Linked DNA regions of Homo sapiens: regions 2, 3 and 4 are each linked to region 1. The links come from fine-mapping of genetic effects on gene expression. A gene starts in region 1. Each other region holds a variant in brackets. All regions are shown on one strand. Distances are from middle to middle. Region 1 holds the start of ZFP37 (ZFP37 zinc finger protein). Region 2 has its middle 9.9 kb from the start of FAM225B. Region 3 has its middle 15 kb from the start of FAM225B. Region 4 has its middle 20 kb from the start of FAM225B.

Region 1 (2,690 bases):
GGATTCTGGTTTTGTTTCCTGGTGTGTCTCCAGCATTTAAAACATTCCCTGGTTTTGAGGACAAAGCAGGGACTGCAAAACAACAACACCAAACAAATAAAATAAAAAATACCCCCTGGCATAAAATAAATGCTCATCTTACAGACTGTTCCTACTGTTCCTGCAAGTTTTCAATCACTGACACCCAAATACTCCCCAATCACTAACCTTCACAAACTTCTCCCAATTATGGATCTCTGCAAGTTCCCAACTATCACTCTCCACAGAACAATCATTAACCTCCACAGATCTCCAATCACTGACCACCAAAGAACCCTCAATCATTAAATGCAGCAATCCCCTCAAACTCCTGACCCCCTTAGACTTCTAGTCACAGAATCATAGAGGATCTTCAATCATTAATTCCTACTAATCACCTCATTACTCAAAGCACAGTTATTACTGCTAGACACCACCTAATTATTGACCTGCATACATCCCCAATTACCTTTTCTCCCCAGATGACATACAAATCATCTACCATCCCCAGAGACACCTCAACATTGACTCCCCAAACTCCAACAGTCATATTCCCCCCTCACTGGCCCCCCGATTCCTCCATTACCCACTGACCCTCAAAGATACTGCTAATCAAACTTCCACAGACATCACCGTCACTGACTCCCAAGCCCCAATCTCTGATGCTCCCAGATGCTCCCAATCACTGAATTTCCCAAATCCTAACACTGACCCTCTTTGATAACCCAGGCTCTAACCACCACAGGCACCCATAATCGCTGGCTCCCATAGACATCCCAAACCGCCAACCCCCACGGTCCTTCCCTATCTCTGACACATCACAAAGCCTCCATTTCTGATCTCCTTCCAAACTCCGACACTCGGTGACTGCCACAGACGCCTCCCCATCATTGTCTCTGCAGATCCCTCCTAATACTGATATCCTAAAGCCAAATCATTAACCCCACAGATAACTCAGAACACCGACCTCCCAAAAGACCATCTAGCATCGATTCCACCAATTCCCAAATCACCTATCGTCACAGACTACTCCAATCACTGCCCCGCAAGTACACCATCTCTGACCGCCAAAACACCCTGTCTCATCACAGCTCTCACCGCGGCGCTGGCCTCGGGCTCGGACACAGCCATCTCCAGTGGTCGCCCGGCCTCTTTGGTCGTTTCCGCACTTCTCCTCCGGTCCACGGTCTCTGGCTTTGTCAGAATCTGGACGCCGCTGGAGACCGACATGGCGGCTACCCGGAGGGCGGCCTTAGCGGGTCCGGCAGCCGCGATGGCGGCGCCCTTCGGTAATAGCGCACGGGCGCGGCCATCTTGGCAAACACTCAGCCGTACAGCGGAAGTGCGGGGACTTCTGGGACAATTAGATCGGGAGGTGGAAGCTGGCGAGGGCGTTACTTGCAGGATGCAGGAGTGATGCGATCAGAGCCAGCCGGAACCGAGTTCCGTTACGCACTACAGGACTGACCTGGGCCTGACAACCCACTGCCGGAGTTCGGATCGCATCACTGCCGGAAGATATTTTACAGAATTTGGAATTGCTTTTCCGAATACATGTCAGTGCGGCCAGCGGCTAGAAGTCCGGGAATCACAACGCTTAGTGCGGACTTTAGAAAGGCAGGATGCGAGAAATTGGAAGCATAACGGAGAAAAGCCTGATCGAACAAATAACATTATTTTATAGGGAGAGGACGTTAATCTTTGAGATATACGATAAATCTTTTCATATATAGTATAAGAACAATAAGAAAAACTGAAACAGAAACTTAAGTAAACACACCACTCCTCCGTGAGAGCCCGGGTTTGGTGAAGATATTTCACCAGAATAATCAAGCACTTGGAGAAATAATTCCTTAATGCGCCATTTCATGCATTAATTGCATTCATTGAATATGTGCAGGTTAGGTGCTGCGCTATGCAAGGTACTGGAAAAAGAGTGGAGAGGGGTAGGGATGATGTAAGTCCAGAGTCCAAAGGCCAGAAAACCAGGGTCTCCAATGTCAAAAGGCAGAAGATGAATGTCCCAGCTCAAGAAAAAAGAAAAGGTGGGAGGGAAGTGGGGATACTTAACGGGTTTTTAAAAAAAAAGAAAAGAAAGAAGGAATAAGACCTAGTATTTGATAGCACTACAGGTGTATATATCCAATAATAATTTAGTTGTACATTTCGAAATAACAAAGTATAAATGGATTGTAACACAGAAGATAAATGCTTGAGGGGATAGATACCCCATTTTCCATGATGTGATTATTGCACTGTGCATGCCTGTATCAAACTACTTCATGTACCCCATAAATATACTCACCTACTATGTACCCACAAAAGTTAAAGATTAAAAAAAAATAGAAAAGAGGATTCACCCTTCCTTTTCCTTTTTGTCCTTTCAGGCCCTCAGTGGATTAGGTGGTGGCCACCCACATTGGTGGGGGCTTTTTTATTCAGTTTGCTAATTCAAATGCTAATCTTTTCCCAGAAACACACTAACAAACCCAGAAACAATGTTTCACCAGTTTTCTGGGCATCCTTTAGCCCAGTCAAGTTGACCGATAAAATTAACCATCACCCTAACCATGATATACACAGACTTCCAGGTTACAGAATCTGTGAGATAATAGGTTTGTGATACTTTAATCCACTAAAGCTGGTGATAATTTGTTATCCAGCAATACTAA
Region 2 (2,690 bases), 45 kb after region 1:
GCCATGCATTTTATGTAGGTTGCTCACTGCTATCTAGTGAGCATCTAGTATCCCCAGCATCTAGTGCTTAGCATTTATGTGGTACTCAGGAACCACTTAGGAAACCAAATGACCGATGGGAGGTGTATCTGGGGATAGGGCTTGCCCATCATGTCTTGGGATGGACCCATCCTAAAAGGGGAGGGAAGGAGGCCTGATAGGCATCCAACTCAAACTGTCCAGTGGAGGTCACTAAAGACTTCACTCTGGAACATGAGCTCTGCCTTCATGGCTTCCAGAAGACAAGAAGTAGAAGTGTAACCTCACAAATTAGGTCCTGGAGGACACTTCTGGGTTACTAGAGCTTCTTTCAGCCCTTTCTGATGGATCCCCCACCTCTGCCTCAGTGGGCAGTGATTGGCCTTGTGAGTCTTTGGGGGGCTGCTGTGTTCAGAAGTGACCCTGGGCCCTCAGAATCTCATGCATGCTGTGGCTTTAGAATGTACTCAGAGAGGTGTTGACTGAGCTGGGCCTGCTGCAGATGCATGTACCTTCTGTGGTGTAACTCTGTGGAGATGAAAATAGTAATAGTAATAACAATAATAGTAATACTATTAACTACTGTACAAATTTTCCATGGCCACTGCAATACCACCACAAACTTTGTTCTTAAAAGAACACCCATTTATTATCTCACAATTCTGTAGGTGGATTCAGAAGTCTGGATGGAATCTACTGGACACTCTGCACATGATCCCCAAGGTTGAAATCAAGGCTGCAGCTATTTGGGCTCCTGTCTGGAGATTCTGGGGGAAAATCAACTTTGAAGTTCATTCAGGATGTTGGGAAAAATCAAATTCCTTACACCTACAAGTCTGAGGCAGGTTTTCCTTTTCTGACTGTCAGCTGGGAGCTGCCATCTGCTCCTCTGGGCTTCCTGTATTCTCTCTAACATGGCTGTCTCCATCTTCAAAGCAGCAACAACTTGTGGAGTCTCTAACTTGGAATCTTTCTCTGCCAGGCAGAGCAAGCTTTCCGTTTTTAAGGGCTCGTGTGATTAGATTAGGCCCACTGAGAAGATCATTTTCTGTCAATGGATTAGTAACCTTAATTGCATCTGCAAAATCCCTTTGGCTACAAAATGTAATATAGTCAGGGAAGTAACAATAGGGGGCAGAAAGATATGATGGAGACCAAATTCAGCTTGCTACCACTCGAGTCCATTGAGGTCACTCCATGTACTGGCCTCAAAGCCTTCAGCTTGAGCCTGCAATTTTATGTTATAAAATAAAACTATTATACATGTACATGAGTACCTTTTGTTCTCCAAAATATAAATTCTAAGAAATACTATCTGCAAAATAAACATATAAAAAGAAAGTTCAGGCCGGACGCAGTGGCTCACGCCTATGATCCCAGCACTTTGGGGGGCCGAGGTGGGCTGATCACGAGGTCAGAAGATTGATACCATCCTTGCTAACATGGTGAAACCCTGTCTCTACTAAAAATACAAAAAATTAGCCGGGTGTGGTGGCACATGCCTGTAGTCC[G/C]AGCTACTTGAGAGGCTGAAGCAGGAGAATTGCTTGAACCAGGAGGCGGAGGTTGCAGTGAGCCGAGATTGTGCCACTGCACTCCAGCCTGGGCGACAGAGCAAGACTCCATCTCAAAAACAAACAAACAAAAAAACAAATTTCAATCAATCTGACTAATTATTGAACATATTTTTATTCCTTTGCTGCTAAGGTCATCATTAGTTCTAGGCTTTAGTGAATATACCCATGCTTACATACATACATTTCAGTTGATTAGGCAACTTTAAAATATATGAGTCGCCAGAGTTTGTAAAAACCATTTTGCCACTTTTTCATGAGAACCTAGTTCTCTTCTTACTTTTCATTGAGGAAAATATTCACATTTTATAATGCTCACCCAGTAGGCAATAAAAATTGCTGTGTGTTTCCTATTTATCCCTATCTGAGTGGGGGTCTTTATCATCATTACCTTGTCTCCACAATATACACAGAGCCACATCCAGCCACTATGGGGAAGAGTACACATGACCAACCCCACGTTCCAGAACACTGATGTGGATGCATTACTAGATAATACTTTGGCTGGCTCCTAACATCTTCTTTGGAGATATAGTGAATGTGCTCTACCTGAGGGGGAAAGAGAAACATGAATTTTGGTGACCTAAAGACCACTCTGCAGTAGAGTCTATGCTATATGTTCACCAAGCCCAATTCACTTTCCCCTTGGACACAGCAAAATATTGCATCCCTTGCAGTTAGTTGGGGCCCCATGAGTGAGTTTGCTCAATGCAACATGAAGAAAAGTCATGGATGCCATGTTTGTACTTGGCTATATATATTTTCTGTATGCAATCCTCCTGTTTCTCTTCTCCATCTGTAGCAACAATGGAGACTACATGTCAAAGAAAATGTAATCATTAAAAATAATTTTCCAGCACCCGCCACATTGACATATAGAACCCATTCTAGCTCATTCATAGCCCACAATAGCAACTAGGAATTATCTGTTGTATCCCAGGCAATGCTGTGAAAACTATAAGCAAGACCCCCTTCCTGGATACATCTGGGACTCCGTTGCTCCCCTCCAAGGTTTGATCAGAGAGAGTGGTAGTGAATACACTTCTATCCCATACCTTTCCTCTTCTATTTCTCTCTGCTACTGAGACTTAGCCCAAGAAC
Region 3 (2,690 bases), 40 kb after region 1:
CATGGCAGCCATGATGGTACAGTCAACACAATAAACCTCAGCATTCGCATTGTAGTCCAGCTCATTCAAGCAAAGCTATCTCTAGTAGGGAATTTCCCCTGCAGAGAGTATGTGCATTTTGATTTCACCTGTCCTCAAACTGACTCTTTGCTCATTATAATAGTAAAAAACATACCCCTGGGTGGAGATTTAAGATGCTAATGAGATATGCAATCTATGAACAAATATGTACTGCTACTGCATCTGTGCACCCAGAAAACCACCCAGAATATGCTTACTAGTAACAACTTTTCCCAACCCCTTATGAATAATCATGTCCAACTCCCATAAAGGGAGTCGCCCTAGTGCCAGTCTTTACTGTCTCATTCTTACGAATAGCCCACCCTGAATCCTCTCTCCCTCAGGGTGTACTGTCTATTCTGCACTTAACTCTCAAAATATTCTTTTTCTTTTGCAATAAACTACTGTATACTGCATTTACTTCGCTGTGTGTCTCTTGTTTAAATTCTTTTTAACTAAGAAGGCAAGAACTTGAGGTCCCACAACAGCTGTCAACATGGGAAAATGGGACATCACTAAGCCTGCCAGTCAAGACTATCCCCATTCTCCTCCAGGACACACTTTTTGCATCTTGTATCCTATAGGCACCTGCATGTGCTTCCTTTTGAGGATAGATGTATAGAGCAGTTACATCAAAATCCATGGTGTAAGGAGCAAGATAGAGCAACCATGAAAATGTACTGTCTGAGTCCATTTGACAATGGACTATAAAAATACCACAAGCTGTATGGCTTATAAACCACAGAAATTTATTTCTCATAGTTTTGGAGACTGCACAGCCCAAGATCCAGGTGGATTCAGTGTCTAATGAGGGCATATCTTCTCACTGTAACCTCATATGGTGGAAGCAGCTAGCTAGCTCTCGGTGTTCTCTTTTATAAGGGCATTAATCTCACTCATGAGGGTTCCACCTTCATGACCTAATCACCCCACAAAGGCACCACCTCTTAATAATACCATCATCTTGGGGGTTATGATTTCAACCTATGAATTTTGGGAGACTCACACATTCAGACCATAACACACATATTGTTTAGTGCCAGGAGCTGAGGGAAGATGTTTGTCCGTCTGTCTGTCTGTCTCTCTCTCTCTCCCCACGGGCTCAATTGAGTCATCATTCATTCTTGCTTACATACTTCTGACCTCAGACTGGATTGAAGTATCCCCTCACTTTCCTTCTTTTCATTATCACGACTGGGTGCCTTTCTTCAATCACAGCACTGTGTGATACTGGATCCAAGATTGTTCATGGATCATATTTTGCCACCCCCTTTGCCTTCTACTCACAGAACACACTCGGATCCTTCTATACTCAGAACACACTTGGGATCCTATTTTGCAACCAGTACCTGCCTTTGTTTTTGGACCTCACCACCTCACCTGACCCCACACTCTCCCAAGATCTC[A/G]AATTCTCACCAAGTTGACCTGCCCATGGGTTCCATTAATTCATTGTTTTGTTTTCCTACGGTAACAAGGCTTTATGGGAGAGGCCCACCCAAGTTCCAGCTAAGCAAGGTCTTGGACAAAGGCCTCCTCCATTGGTCCATGAGGGGCCCTAAATGTAACCTAATGAGGGGTTTAGAAATCTATTCAGTGAAGGGTCCTCTGGGAAGGGACAAAATGTGGCTCGGTAAGGTACTCAAAGAATGGATTATCAAGAGGCCCAAGGGAAAATCTAAACCAGAAAGACTGAAAACATCTAGAACATACAGTTGGGCAAGAATATGGGAAGATCAATTCTGGGGGGATGTGTCCTTCATGGACTGCTGCACACTCTACACTGCTCAATCCAGGGAACTTCATCCTAGGAAGTCAGAACCAGACATTTGACAGTCTTGTGACTGGAATATTATCAGAACTAGTCTCAAGACTTTTCCTTTTTTATCTATGTCCTCAAAAGTTTTTAGAAGCCCAAATTATGTGGCTTGGGATACACTTTTTGAAGTCTTCAGATACAAAACACTGTTTAACAATCCCCATTCCCAACCCCTTCCCCAGTCTAAGTTTTGTTTCTCATCAACCCATGTATGATTCAAGGGCTGACTTTATAGCTGTGCCCATGAAGCTTCTTAGAAGAAACCCTCAAGCAGGTCAGACAGAAGAGGTGATCCTGGACAAGATATTATCAACAAATCAAGAGAAAGAGGACCTTAGGATACTCATAGCAGAAGGAGATAAATTAGGGGTTGCAGGATTGGAGCCCATTCACCCTATGGAGAAGAGTCATCCAGCACAGGAGAGGTGATTGGCAGAAATTCTTGGTACAAGATGCCCAGTTCTTGCTATGGACTCTTAAAGCATATCTTAAAAAACATGAGGCATTTGTTTCAGTGCTTTTATCCAATTAAACAGAGAAGAAAAGAAAAGGCTGGCCAGGAGCATGCCAGCCTTTTTTTACAAAGCGCAAGCCCACCAGAAATCAGGGCTACCTCTGCGGACAAAAGGATGCTGAAACTCAAAGAGCAAGTCAGTTATTTGGCCAGAGCCTAAAGAAAACAATAGGGCTGAGAAGTGTAATTAATGCAAGGGAAAGATGTCCACTCACTGAGGAACTCAGTGAGTTAGATACTCACTGAGTTAGAACTCAGTGAGGCTCAGGCAGAACTCAGAGTTAGATATTCCTGTGACTG
Region 4 (2,690 bases), 35 kb after region 1:
CGGCTTTCGGGGACATCTCAGGCTCGCTGTCTCTGCCTTGGACCTGGCGCAGAGAGGAGTGAGGCCTGAGGACAGGGCTGCGTGGCCAGCTGGGTGTGGGAGGTGCCAACACAGTAAGGGCTGCTCAAGGGGTGGCCGGGAGCGATACGGGGGGGTTGCTCAAGAAATCACCGCTGGAACTGGGATCCAGTCATCCCACTTCTGGACGTATCGCCTAAGGACACGAAATCGGGTTGTGGTGCAAATATGTGTCCTGCTGCATTGGTTGTCGGCACGCTGCCTGTAACCAAGACGTGGAATCGACCGAAGTACCCTTCAGCAGATGACTAGAGAAGGACAAATGAATAGGGTTCGTAGAACAAACACATCAGGGAAAGGAAAGGAAAGCCTGTCATCTGGGACGTTATGCATGGACCCAAAAGTCATGGTGCCCAGTGAAATCAGCCAGGCCCATCCGACCCGTATTGCGTGATCTCCTTGTGATGTTGGATGGAGAAAATGCTGTGAGGATCAGGAAAGTAGAGAGGAGAAAGGTGGTTGGCTGGGCCTGGGGCCGGTGTAGGGGCAGGTGTAGGGGCAGGGAAAGGATGCCAATGCGAGATGTGGGTCAAAGGGCACAAAGTTTCCGAGAGACAGGTGGAGTGCTTCCTGGATATCCGTGGCAGGGCAACGTGAGTACGGTGGAGCAGAATGTAAGGTTCTCGTGAATATATCCACGGGAGTAGAGCTGAAAATTCTCCTGAGCGGGGACAGGGGACGCATGTGTGGTGATAAGTGTGTGAATTCGGCCGATTCTAGTGAATTCCCTAATGAAGACGTCACACACGGTTAGTGTGTATCATATTTATTGTCGTTTAAACTGGACTGATCCAGCTGCCGATGGGTTCCTGTGTTTATCTCTACAGCCTTCTTCTTTGCTTTGTGAGCACGTGAGTCAAAGAAAGAGCTCAATTGTCGGCAGGAATCGGGTAGAAACTCAGGAAGTTTGGGAAAGGAGATTCAGATATTTGGGGCCCTGCCTGTTTTTGGCAAGCCATAGAAAATTTGTTTCCAAAGAGCTGTGCCCAAAAGGGAAAAGCTGAAAAGAAATTTTAATGTCTGGAATGCTAGTGTCATGGGATTCATTCATGGTCTTAAGTCTTTTATATACATCTCAAGGGCCCTCCAAACGAGTCAGCATGGATTGTAGTGTGGCCTTTCTAGAGGGTTTGTTGTTCAGCTTGTTTTCTGAGATGCCCGGAAGATAATTATTGTCTAATATGGGGAGAAAAGGGCATCCTGGTGCAATGTTGCTGAGATAGTC[A/C]ATTAGGCCAGTGGTGGTAAGGAGCAATGTGGAAGCTGTTTAATTAATAATTAGTGGAACTGGGATCTAAGCATTCCCATCTGGGCATACAGCCTAAGGAAATCCATGTACACAGTAAATATGTACGAGATTATGTTGGTTGTAGGCTTTTTCTTTTTGTAAGGTACAAAATTTTCCTAGGCATCAGTGGAGACATAAAAAGGAATACTATTCACATTTTTAGTGGAAAATCTGTCATTTTTGACTTCATGAATAAACCTGAAGTTTTCCTGTCTAGTGGGCAATCCAGGCCTGTAATGTTGATATTGCGTGATCTCACTTGTATGTGGGATCAACAAAGGTGAAAATTATAGAAGTTTAGAGTGGATAGTTGGGCTTCATGGCCTAGGGCAGGGGCAAGATGGGCATAGGGAGATGTTGGTCAAAGGATACAATTTATCAGAAAGTTAACTAGAGATTTCTGGATATTTATGACATGGCAATGTGAATATAGTTATACATATGTATTGTACACTTGAAGATGGCTATGAGAGCAGATTTCAGAATTCTCAGCACAGGATTCGAAGCATGTGAGGTGATAAATATTAATTAGTTTGACTTAATTCCCAATGAAGATATAATTCATATATATATATGTATATATAACTATATATATTATTTTCTTTAATGAATCTGGGAAAAATATTACATTACCAACAAAGATGAGAATGAAAGAAAGAAACACACTAAAAAAAATACAACATTAACAGGGCTGATCTGCAGTTCATGTGTATTGATTTACCACCTGGATATTTTGATCTATATCTGAGGTTCTCTCCAGCTTGTCCTTCAATATTGTAGATGCACTGGTTGCTCTGTTGACCCCAAGCTGTCTACCTGAATGTCACCCATCAGCTTCAGCTGCTTTGTGCAGCGCTCTCATGGTTTCTATCACATCTGTCTTCATAAGAAAGAAGCAACTATTCCAAGACACGCAGTGGGACATTCGCCTTCCAACTTTTTCTCCAAAGTTTACCAAGTGTTCATCACTAGCTAGGGGGACAACTTCCAACTTTAGGTTAGAGTAGATGAGATTCTATTGTAAAAACTTTATATACCTCAAGGAAGTGTGCATTTTGGGGGAAATAGGCTGCAAACTTGATTATTACCAACATGTGTAGTCATCCCTCTTGCAAGTTGAAATGAATGATTTTTTAATTAATTGATTCTCTATATTAACTATATTTACTTTGTTTCTTCATCAGTGTGAGATTTCTTTTCAGACTAATAACTTGAAAGTGTGATGATATTCTTTACGCAGTTTGGATGACTGAATGATATTTAGGAATTGATTTAGGAGAGCCTGCTGAAAGCAGAAAGACTAGATATTTTATACCCTTGGAGGTTT

Evidence for each region. PIP is the estimated chance that this variant, and not a neighbour inherited with it, causes the effect.
Region 2: its variant is fine-mapped to the expression of ZFP37 in pancreas (GTEx, PIP above 0.99). The same link has a PIP of 0.9 or more in whole blood.
Region 3: its variant is fine-mapped to the expression of ZFP37 in lung (TOPMed, PIP 0.91).
Region 4: its variant is fine-mapped to the expression of ZFP37 in whole blood (TOPMed, PIP above 0.99).

Annotation. Positions count from the first base shown.
Region 1 is chr9:113,055,441-113,058,130 of GRCh38, forward strand. It overlaps ZFP37 (ZFP37 zinc finger protein), which reads right to left and starts at 1,284. Exons shown (of 4, transcript NM_003408.3): 1 at 1,117-1,284. The coding sequence starts at 1,248. RefSeq lists an enhancer at 915-1,484.
Region 2 is chr9:113,100,436-113,103,125 of GRCh38, forward strand. No RefSeq gene overlaps it. Among named protein-coding and RNA genes, the nearest start is that of FAM225B, 9.9 kb to the right of the region's middle. The variant G/C (reference allele first, on the strand shown) is at 1,530.
Region 3 is chr9:113,095,477-113,098,166 of GRCh38, forward strand. No RefSeq gene overlaps it. Among named protein-coding and RNA genes, the nearest start is that of FAM225B, 15 kb to the right of the region's middle. The variant A/G (reference allele first, on the strand shown) is at 1,467.
Region 4 is chr9:113,089,955-113,092,644 of GRCh38, forward strand. No RefSeq gene overlaps it. Among named protein-coding and RNA genes, the nearest start is that of FAM225B, 20 kb to the right of the region's middle. The variant A/C (reference allele first, on the strand shown) is at 1,304.